Linked DNA regions of Homo sapiens: all the other regions are linked to region 3. Evidence: fine-mapped expression QTL. A gene starts in region 3. Each other region holds a variant in brackets. All regions are shown on one strand. Distances are from middle to middle.

Region 1 (2,834 bases), 52 kb after region 3:
AAGGTAAGAGGTTGTTCTCATTTGGGTTTTGATGTTCAGATACCCAAAACCCATTTCAGCTCTTTTAAATGAAAAGATGTGGTGGGGGTTATTAGAAAATTGAATCTTGGGCCGGGCGCGGTGGCTCACACCTGTAATCCTGGCACTTTGGGAAGCTGAGGTGGGTGGATCACAAGGTCAGGAGATTGAGACCATCCTGGCTAACACGGTGAACCCCCGTCTCTACTAAAAGTACAAAAAATTAGCCGGGCGTGGTGGCGGGCGCCTGTAGTCCCAGCTCCTTGGGAGCCTGAGGCAGAAGAATTGCTTGAACCTGGGAGACGGAGGTTGCAGTGAGCCGAGATTGTGCCACTGCACTCCAGCCTGGGCACAAGACTCTGTGTCAAAAAAAGACACAAAAACATGAAAATTTGGTACAGGCGGGGCGCGGTGCCTCACGCCTGTAGTCCCAGCACTTTGGGAGGCCGAGGTGGGCGGATCACGAGGTCAGGAGATCAAGACCATCCTGGCTAACACAGTGAAACCCCGTCTCTACTGAAAATACAAAAAAATTAGCCGGGCGTGGTGGCGGGCGCCTGTAGTCCCAGCTACTTGGGAGGCTGACGCAGGAGAATGGCGTGAACCCGGGAGGCGGAGCTTGCAGTGAGCCGAGATTGCGCTACTGCACTCCAGCCTGGGCGACAGAGCGAGACTCCGTCTCAAAAAAAAAAAAAAAAAAAAGAAAGAAAATTTGGTACATATATGGGGCCTGTCCGAGGGTCATGGGGGAGGAGGGAGAGCATCAGGCAGAACAGCTAATGGATGCTGGGTTAATACCTAGGTGATGGATGATCTGAGGAGCAAACCTCCGTGGCACACATTTACCTGCATAACAAACCTGCACATCCTGCATGTGTACCCCAGAACTTAAAAAAGAAAAAAGAAAATGCATTGAATACACCTAAACTACAAAACACAGCTTAGCCTAGCCTGCCTTAAACATGCTCAGAACACTCACATTAGCTTATCGTTGGGCACAATCATTTAACACAAAATCTATTACATTTCATAATGAAGTGTTGAATATCTCAGATAATTTATCGAATACTGTACCAACAGTGAAAAACAGAACTGTTGTATGGGTACTTGAAGTACAGTTTCTAGTGAATGTGAATCCCTTTCACACCATCGTAAAGTTGAAAACTCCATCGTAGGTGGGATCATAGTAAATTGGGGACCGTCTGCATGTGTCTACTTGAGGTGCTGAAAGAATTTCTTCTCTCATAGATCATATTTGGAGTCAGGAGGAACCTCAGAACATGGGTCCGTGGTCGTTTGTTTCTCCAAGGTTTGAAAAGCAGCTGGCCTGCAAGGTAATCACACGTTTTCTCTGGTAGTGTTTTGTGTTTTGTGTGCATGTTGTTTTTCTTTTCTTTCTTTCTTTCTTTTTTTTTTTTGAGACAGAGTCTCACTCTGTTGCCCAGGCTGGAGTGCAGTGGCGCAATCTCAGCTCACTGCAAGCTCCGCCCCCCGGGTTCACGCCATTCTCCTGCCTCAGCCTCCCAAGTAGCTGGGACTACAGGCGCCCGCCACCACACCCAGCTAAATTTTTTTTGTATTTTTAGTAGAGACGGGGTTTCACCATGTTAGCCAGGAT[A/G]GTCTCAATCTCCTGACCTCGTGATCCGCCCACCTCGGCCTCCCAAAGCGCTGGGATTACAGGCATTGAGGCACGGAGCCCTGTCCCTCTAATCTCTTCTGCGTAACTCATTATTTGAAAGAGGTGATTTATGGTTAAACAAGCTAAGAGAAATACATGCACTGTCTTGTTGGAACTAAGCAGAGCTCTGATCTAGTCAAAATGTCATTTTATTTCTTCTCTGCTGCACTTATAGCTCCGTCTGGTGGGCCGGCCCCCTTTGCCAGTACCCGCTGTAGGAATTGGCACAGTTCACTTGCACCAGCATGAAGATATCCTCGCCAAGACCTTCGCTTGATGATGACTTTTGAAGAAACACTATTTCTCTTTAAGAAAATGGCCATTAAGGCCGGGTGGGGTGGCACATGCCTGTAATCCCAGCACTTTGGGAGGCCAAGGCTGGTGGATCACCTGAGGTCAGGAGTTCGAGACCAGCCTGGCCAACACGGTGAAACCCCGCCTCTACTAAAAATACAAAAAATAGCCGGGTGTGGTGGTGGGCACCTGTGATCCCAGCTTCCTGGGAGGCTGAGGCAAGAGAATCGCTTGAATCTGGGAGGCGGAGGTTGCAGTGAGCCAGGATCACACCATTGCTGTCCAGCCTGGGTGACAGAGCAAGACTGCGTTTCAAAAAAAAAAAAAAAAAAACCCATTAAAAGAGGCCTCCTTCCTCCACTCTCTCAACCCCTCTGTTGGGTAACATGAAAAGACTGTATTCCTCTAAGATGTTGGGATTGATATACGTGATTTAATCTGCAATAGGTGGAATAACCAGGGGAACTGGTTATGAATATGTGAATGCAACCAGCAAATTTATCCTTGAAGGTGTGATGGTAGAAATAGGAAAACAACAAAAGAAAAACAATAACAAAAAAAGAAAGTGTGATGGCTGGGTGCAGTGGCTCACGCCTGTAATCCCAGCACTTTGGGAGGCTTAGGCGGCTGGATCACCTGAGGTCAGGAGTTCAAGACCAGCCTGGTCAACGTGGTGAAACGCCGTTTCTACTAAAAATATGAAAATTAGTTGGGTGTGGTGGCATGCGCTTGTAGTCTCAGCTACTCCGGAGGCTGAGGCAGGAGAATTGCTTGAACCTGGAAGGCAGAGGTTGCAGTGAGCCGAAATGGCGCCACTGTACTCCAACCTGGGCGACAGAGCAAG
Region 2 (2,500 bases), 70 kb after region 3:
CTAAAAATACAAAAATTAGCCAGGCATGGTGGCGTGCACATGTAATCCCAGCTACTCGGGAGGCTGAGGCAGGAGAACCACTTGAACCCAGGTGGTGGAGGTTGCAGTGAGCTGAGATCACGCCATTGCACTCAAACCTGGGCAACAGAGCGAGATGCTGTCTCAAAATAAATAAATACATAGATACATACATACATACATACCAGATAATTTAGGTCAAGGTTTTTTGGGGAGTTCGAAAATCTATTGAAATACTTGTAAGAACTTTTAAAAAATTATATTAGGAAGCAGTAGAACAGATTAGGTACATAATCTGGAGAAAACCTAACTATATTTTCTTTCTGAAGGATGAAATGATCTGATAATTAAAGTACTTTTACTACTGTACTTGTTTTAAATTTGTTTTAAATGGTCAGGGAGAGAAGTTTAAAGAAACAAAGAAAAATACAAAGAAAAAAAAGAATAGTCATCCATATTTCTACCATTGACTTTCAGCATCTTAGAAACTCCTCTCCCCACCATTAAAAAAAAAGTCAACCTTGTGGAGGTATAATATATATACAGTAAAGTACACCTGTTTTTAGGCATACATTTTGAAGAGTTTTGACAAATTTGTACACCCACATGACTACAACCTCTGTGGATATAGAACACTTCTGTCATCCCCGAAGTTCACTGTAACCTTTCTCAGTGAATCTCCACAGGCCCAGGCTACCACTCATCTGCATCCTGTGACTGTACTTTGATTTGTTTTTTCTAGAGCTTCATGTAAATGGAATCATACAGTAGTATATTCTTTAGTGTCTAACTTCATAATCTTTTTGAGATTAATTCATATGGTCGTTACGTCAGTAACTCATTCCTTTTTATTTCTGAATACTGTTCTGATGTTGAAGTTATCACAGTTTATTCATTCATTCGCTTGTTAGACATTTGGGTTGTATCCAGATTTTGGCTACAACACATCAATTTGCTATGAACATTCATGTATAAGTCTTTCTGTGGATATTTTTCATGGGTGAGTCCTTAGAAGTACAGCTGTTGGGTTTTATAGTAAATGTATGCTCAACTTATAAGAAATTGTCAGCTCTTTTCCAAGTGGTTGCCCCATTTTGTTTGTTTGTTTGTTTGTTTGTTTGAGACGTAGTCTCGCTCTGTTGCCCAGGCTGGAGTGCAGTGGCACGATTTCGGCTCACCGCAAGCTCCGCCTCCCGGGTTCAAGCGATTCTCCTATCTCAGCCTCCTGAGTAGCTGGGATTTCA[G/A]GCACGTGCTACCATGCCCAGCCAATTTTTGTATTTTTCGTAGAGCTGGGGTTTTACCATGTTGGACAGGCTGTTCTTGAACTCCTGACCTCAGGTGATCTGCCTGCCTCAGCCTCCCAAAGTGCTGGGATTACAGGCGTGAGCCACCACGCCCGGCCCTCGGTTGCCCCATTTTGTATTTCCACCAGCCGTGTTCTGGAGTTCCAGTTGATCTGCATCCTGGTCTACTTTTAGTATTTTTGATTATTTTAATAGTAGTCATCTTGCCAGGCGCAGTGGCTCACGCCTGTAATCCCAGCACTTTGGGAGGCTGAGGCGGGTGAATCACCTGAGGTTGGGAGTTTGAGACCAGCCTGACCAACATGGAGAAACCCCGTCTCTACTAAAAGTACAAAATTGAGCTGGGCGCGGTAGCTCACACCTATAATCCCAGCACTTTGGGAGGCCAACGCAGGCGGATCACGAGGTCAGGAGATCGAGACCATCCTGGCTAACACAGTGAAACCCCATCTCTACTAAAAATAGAAAAAATTAGGCGGGCGTGGTGGCGGGCGCCTGTAGTCCCAGCTGCTCGGGAGGCTGAGGCAGGAGAATGGCATGAACCCAGGATGCAGAGCTTGCAGTGAGCTGAGATCGAGCCACTGCACTCCAGTCTGGGCGACAGAGCGAGACTCCGTCTCAAAAAATAATAAATAAAAATAAATAAAAATACAAAATTGGCTGGGCGTGGTGGCAAATACCTGTAGTCCCAGCTACTTGGGAGGCTGAGGCAGGAGAATGGCGTGAACCCGGGAGGCGGAGCTTGCAGTGAGCCGAGATCCCGCCACTGCACTCCAGCCTGGGCGACAGAGCGAGACTCCATCTCAAAAAAAAAAAAAAAAAAGAATTCATGAACCTGACAGCACTCAACATGGGTAGAGGGGCCGAGAGCTGCTCCAGGGGTGTGGGCAGTGAGCTTTTGTAGCAGAAGTAAAGAATTGCAGAAGTAAAGAAATTACTTGATTGGCTACAGCTAGGCGTTTGCCTCATTTGATTATGTTCCAGTGAGAGGTTTCTGTGTAGCCAATAGGCTGGTTGACTGTCTGTAATTGGCTGAAACTCATTCAGAATTAAATATCCTCTAAGGTCATTTTCAGTTTTCTTTTGTGAGACTTCAGGGTACAGAAACAACCACAGGCTAATGGCCACCTGCTTAGAGTGCCTTAACAAGTTGAAACTGATTATTATATTAAATATAG
Region 3 (2,500 bases):
AGTGCTTTATGAGTGTACTGGTTGAATGAGTAAGAAGGAGGATGTCTTGGGCTTGTATGTATAATATTCCTAGGAGTTTGGGGTATAGCTGCACAGCTTACTGGAACGAAGGATGACTAACCAGGTAAGGATGCAGACTCTCTCTCCTACCATACTGGCAAAGTTAAAAGTAAGCCACAGAAAAAAAATCATTTGGGAAACTCACTCAGAGACAGACCAACTAATCGTTCATGTCCAGTTTCTTTTGACTCTTATCCCTTTCTTCCCTGCTCCCTTTACCCTATTTCCTTCTTTCTCTCTTAATGTTTTTTGTTTGTTTGTGAGACAGAGTCTCGCTCTGTCGCCCAGGCTGGAGTGCAGTGGGCACGATCTTGGCTCACTGCAACCTCTGCCTCCAGGGTTTAAGCGATTCTTCTGCCTCAGCCTCCCGAGTAGCTGGGACTACAGGCACCCGCCACCACACTCGGCTAATTTTTGTATTTTTAGTAGAGACGGGGTTTCACCATAGTAGCCATGATGGTCTCGAACTCCTGACTTCGTGATCCGCCCTCCTTGGCCTCCCAGAGGGCCTCCCAGAGTGTTGGGATTACAGGCATGAGCCACTGCAGCCTGTTTTGTTTTTTTTTTTTTGTTCGTTTGTTTGTTTGTTTTTGTTCTGTTTTTTTTGAGACGGAGTTTCGCTCTTGTTGCCCAGGCTGGAGTGCAATGGCGCCATCTCAACTCACCGCAACCTCCACCTCCCGGGTTCCAGCGATTTTCCTGTCTCAGCCTCCCGAGTAGCTGGGACCACAGGCACCCACCACTACGCCTGGCTAATTTTGTATTTTTAGTAGAGACGAGGTTTCTCCACGTTGGTAAGACTGGTCTCGAACCCCCGACCTCAGGTGATCCGCCCGCCTCGGCCTCCCAAAGTGCTGGGATTACAGGCGTGAACCACCGCGCCCGACCTAATTTTTGTATTTTTAGTAGAGATGGGTTTTCGCCATGTTGGACAGGTTGGTCTCAAACTCCTGACCTCAGATGATCCTCCCGCTGTGGCCCCCCAAAGTGTTAGGATTACAGGCGTGAGCCACCGCGCCCGGCCTCTGTTAATGTTTCTTAAGAAAACAAAAAAATTAGGGGTATTGATTTTGTAGCTGCGCTAAGTAACCTTTGCTTTTTGCGTCCCTTGGTCTCAGTCCTAGCCATTTCCTATCCACCCTGTGGCTAATTTGTCCTTTCTGTAACAGACACCCTAGACTGTGTCTATGCGGTTGGGCAGAGGCGTGATGGGTAAACACTCCTGGCGGGAGACTACAGGCGCTGCAGCTACATCCTGTTTCGTACTGGGAGCAGGTGCCGCCCCGCGGAACACTTACTTGCCCCGCCCTGCGGTGGAGCAGGGCGGTCTCAGCCGCCGGAACCGCCCTGGAAGCCCGCCCCAATCCTGGGCGTCGCTTCGCTGTGAGTGCCGCTGCCACGGATTGGCTTCCAGGGTCCGGCCCGTCGGCCAATCAGGCGCGGGGGCGTTGTCTGGGGGCGGGGCTCCGGCCGCCTCTGACGAGTCCCGGATTTACCAGGGCCGGTGGGATCCCCTCGGGCTCCCGCCTTAGCATGCTGGCCGGGACATCTGGTGAACATGGCCTCTGCTACTGCGGCAGCAGCACGACGGGGCCTCGGCCGGGCTCTCCCTCTCTTCTGGCGTGGCTACCAGACCGAGCGGGGCGTTTACGGCTACCGGCCGAGGAAGCCCGAGAGCCGCGAGCCCCAGGGCGCCCTGGAGCGCCCCCCAGGTCGGGGATGGGGCCCGGGCGGTGGGAGCGGGGGCTGGGACGCAGAAGCCTCCCCTGGCCGATTTGCGGTGGGGTGTCGGGGTCGGGGAACCGGCTGCCGGCCTGAACGCGCGGCCGGTGGGGAGGAGGGGGAGGTGAGGGGAGCAGAGGGTAGGTGTGGGTGCTCAGTGTTGGGGTCATCCCCCGTCCATCCTCTGTAACTGAGGATCTTTGAGGTCCACGCTTGGGTGGTCTTCCCATCTTGCTGGTCCGGACCTGGTTTCGGAAGGGCTTTTCTTTCCTTTGTTGGAAACGTGTGAGAAACTCTTTTTTTCTTTCTCTTTTTGTTTCCTTTTTTTTTTTTTTTTTTTTTTGAGACGGAGTCTCGCTCTGTGGCCCAGGCTGGAGTGCAGTGCTGCGACCACAGCTCCCTGCAGCCTCGAACTCCTGGGCTCAGGCTATCCTTCCACCTCAGCGTCCCGAGTAGCTGGGGACACAGAGGGATGACCACGCCCAGCTTTTTTTTTTTTTTTTTTTTTTTTTTCATTTTTAGTAGAGATGGGGTCCCACCATGTTGCCCAGGCTGGTCTTGAACTCTTGAGCTCAAGCTGATCCTGCAGCCTCGGCCTCCCAATGTGTTGGGATTACAGGCTGAGCCACTGCACCCAGCCTAGAAAACCAGCTCTTTAATGAGGCGGAGCTGTGGGAGAAGTAAAGTTTTAAGGTCTCCCAAGGATACATTTCCAGGA

The links.
Region 1: its variant is fine-mapped to the expression of DHTKD1 in whole blood (TOPMed, PIP above 0.99). The same link has a PIP of 0.9 or more in blood mononuclear cells and lung.
Region 2: its variant is fine-mapped to the expression of DHTKD1 in whole blood (TOPMed, PIP above 0.99).

What each region holds. Positions count from the first base shown.
Region 1 is chr10:12,118,916-12,121,749 of GRCh38, forward strand. DHTKD1 (dehydrogenase E1 and transketolase domain containing 1) reads left to right here. Exons shown (of 17, transcript NM_018706.7): 15 at 1-3; 16 at 1,267-1,352; 17 at 1,872-2,834. The coding sequence ends at 1,973. Among named protein-coding and RNA genes, the nearest start is that of SEC61A2, 9.3 kb to the right of the region's middle. RefSeq lists an enhancer at 2,724-2,834. The variant A/G (reference allele first, on the strand shown) is at 1,637.
Region 2 is chr10:12,137,842-12,140,341 of GRCh38, forward strand. All of the region lies in intron 3 of SEC61A2 (SEC61 translocon subunit alpha 2), which reads left to right. Among named protein-coding and RNA genes, the nearest start is that of MIR548AK, 8.3 kb to the left of the region's middle. The variant G/A (reference allele first, on the strand shown) is at 1,263.
Region 3 is chr10:12,067,416-12,069,915 of GRCh38, forward strand. DHTKD1 (dehydrogenase E1 and transketolase domain containing 1) reads left to right here and starts at 1,539. Exons shown (of 17, transcript NM_018706.7): 1 at 1,539-1,772. The coding sequence starts at 1,619. RefSeq lists silencers at 1,565-1,614, 1,715-1,874.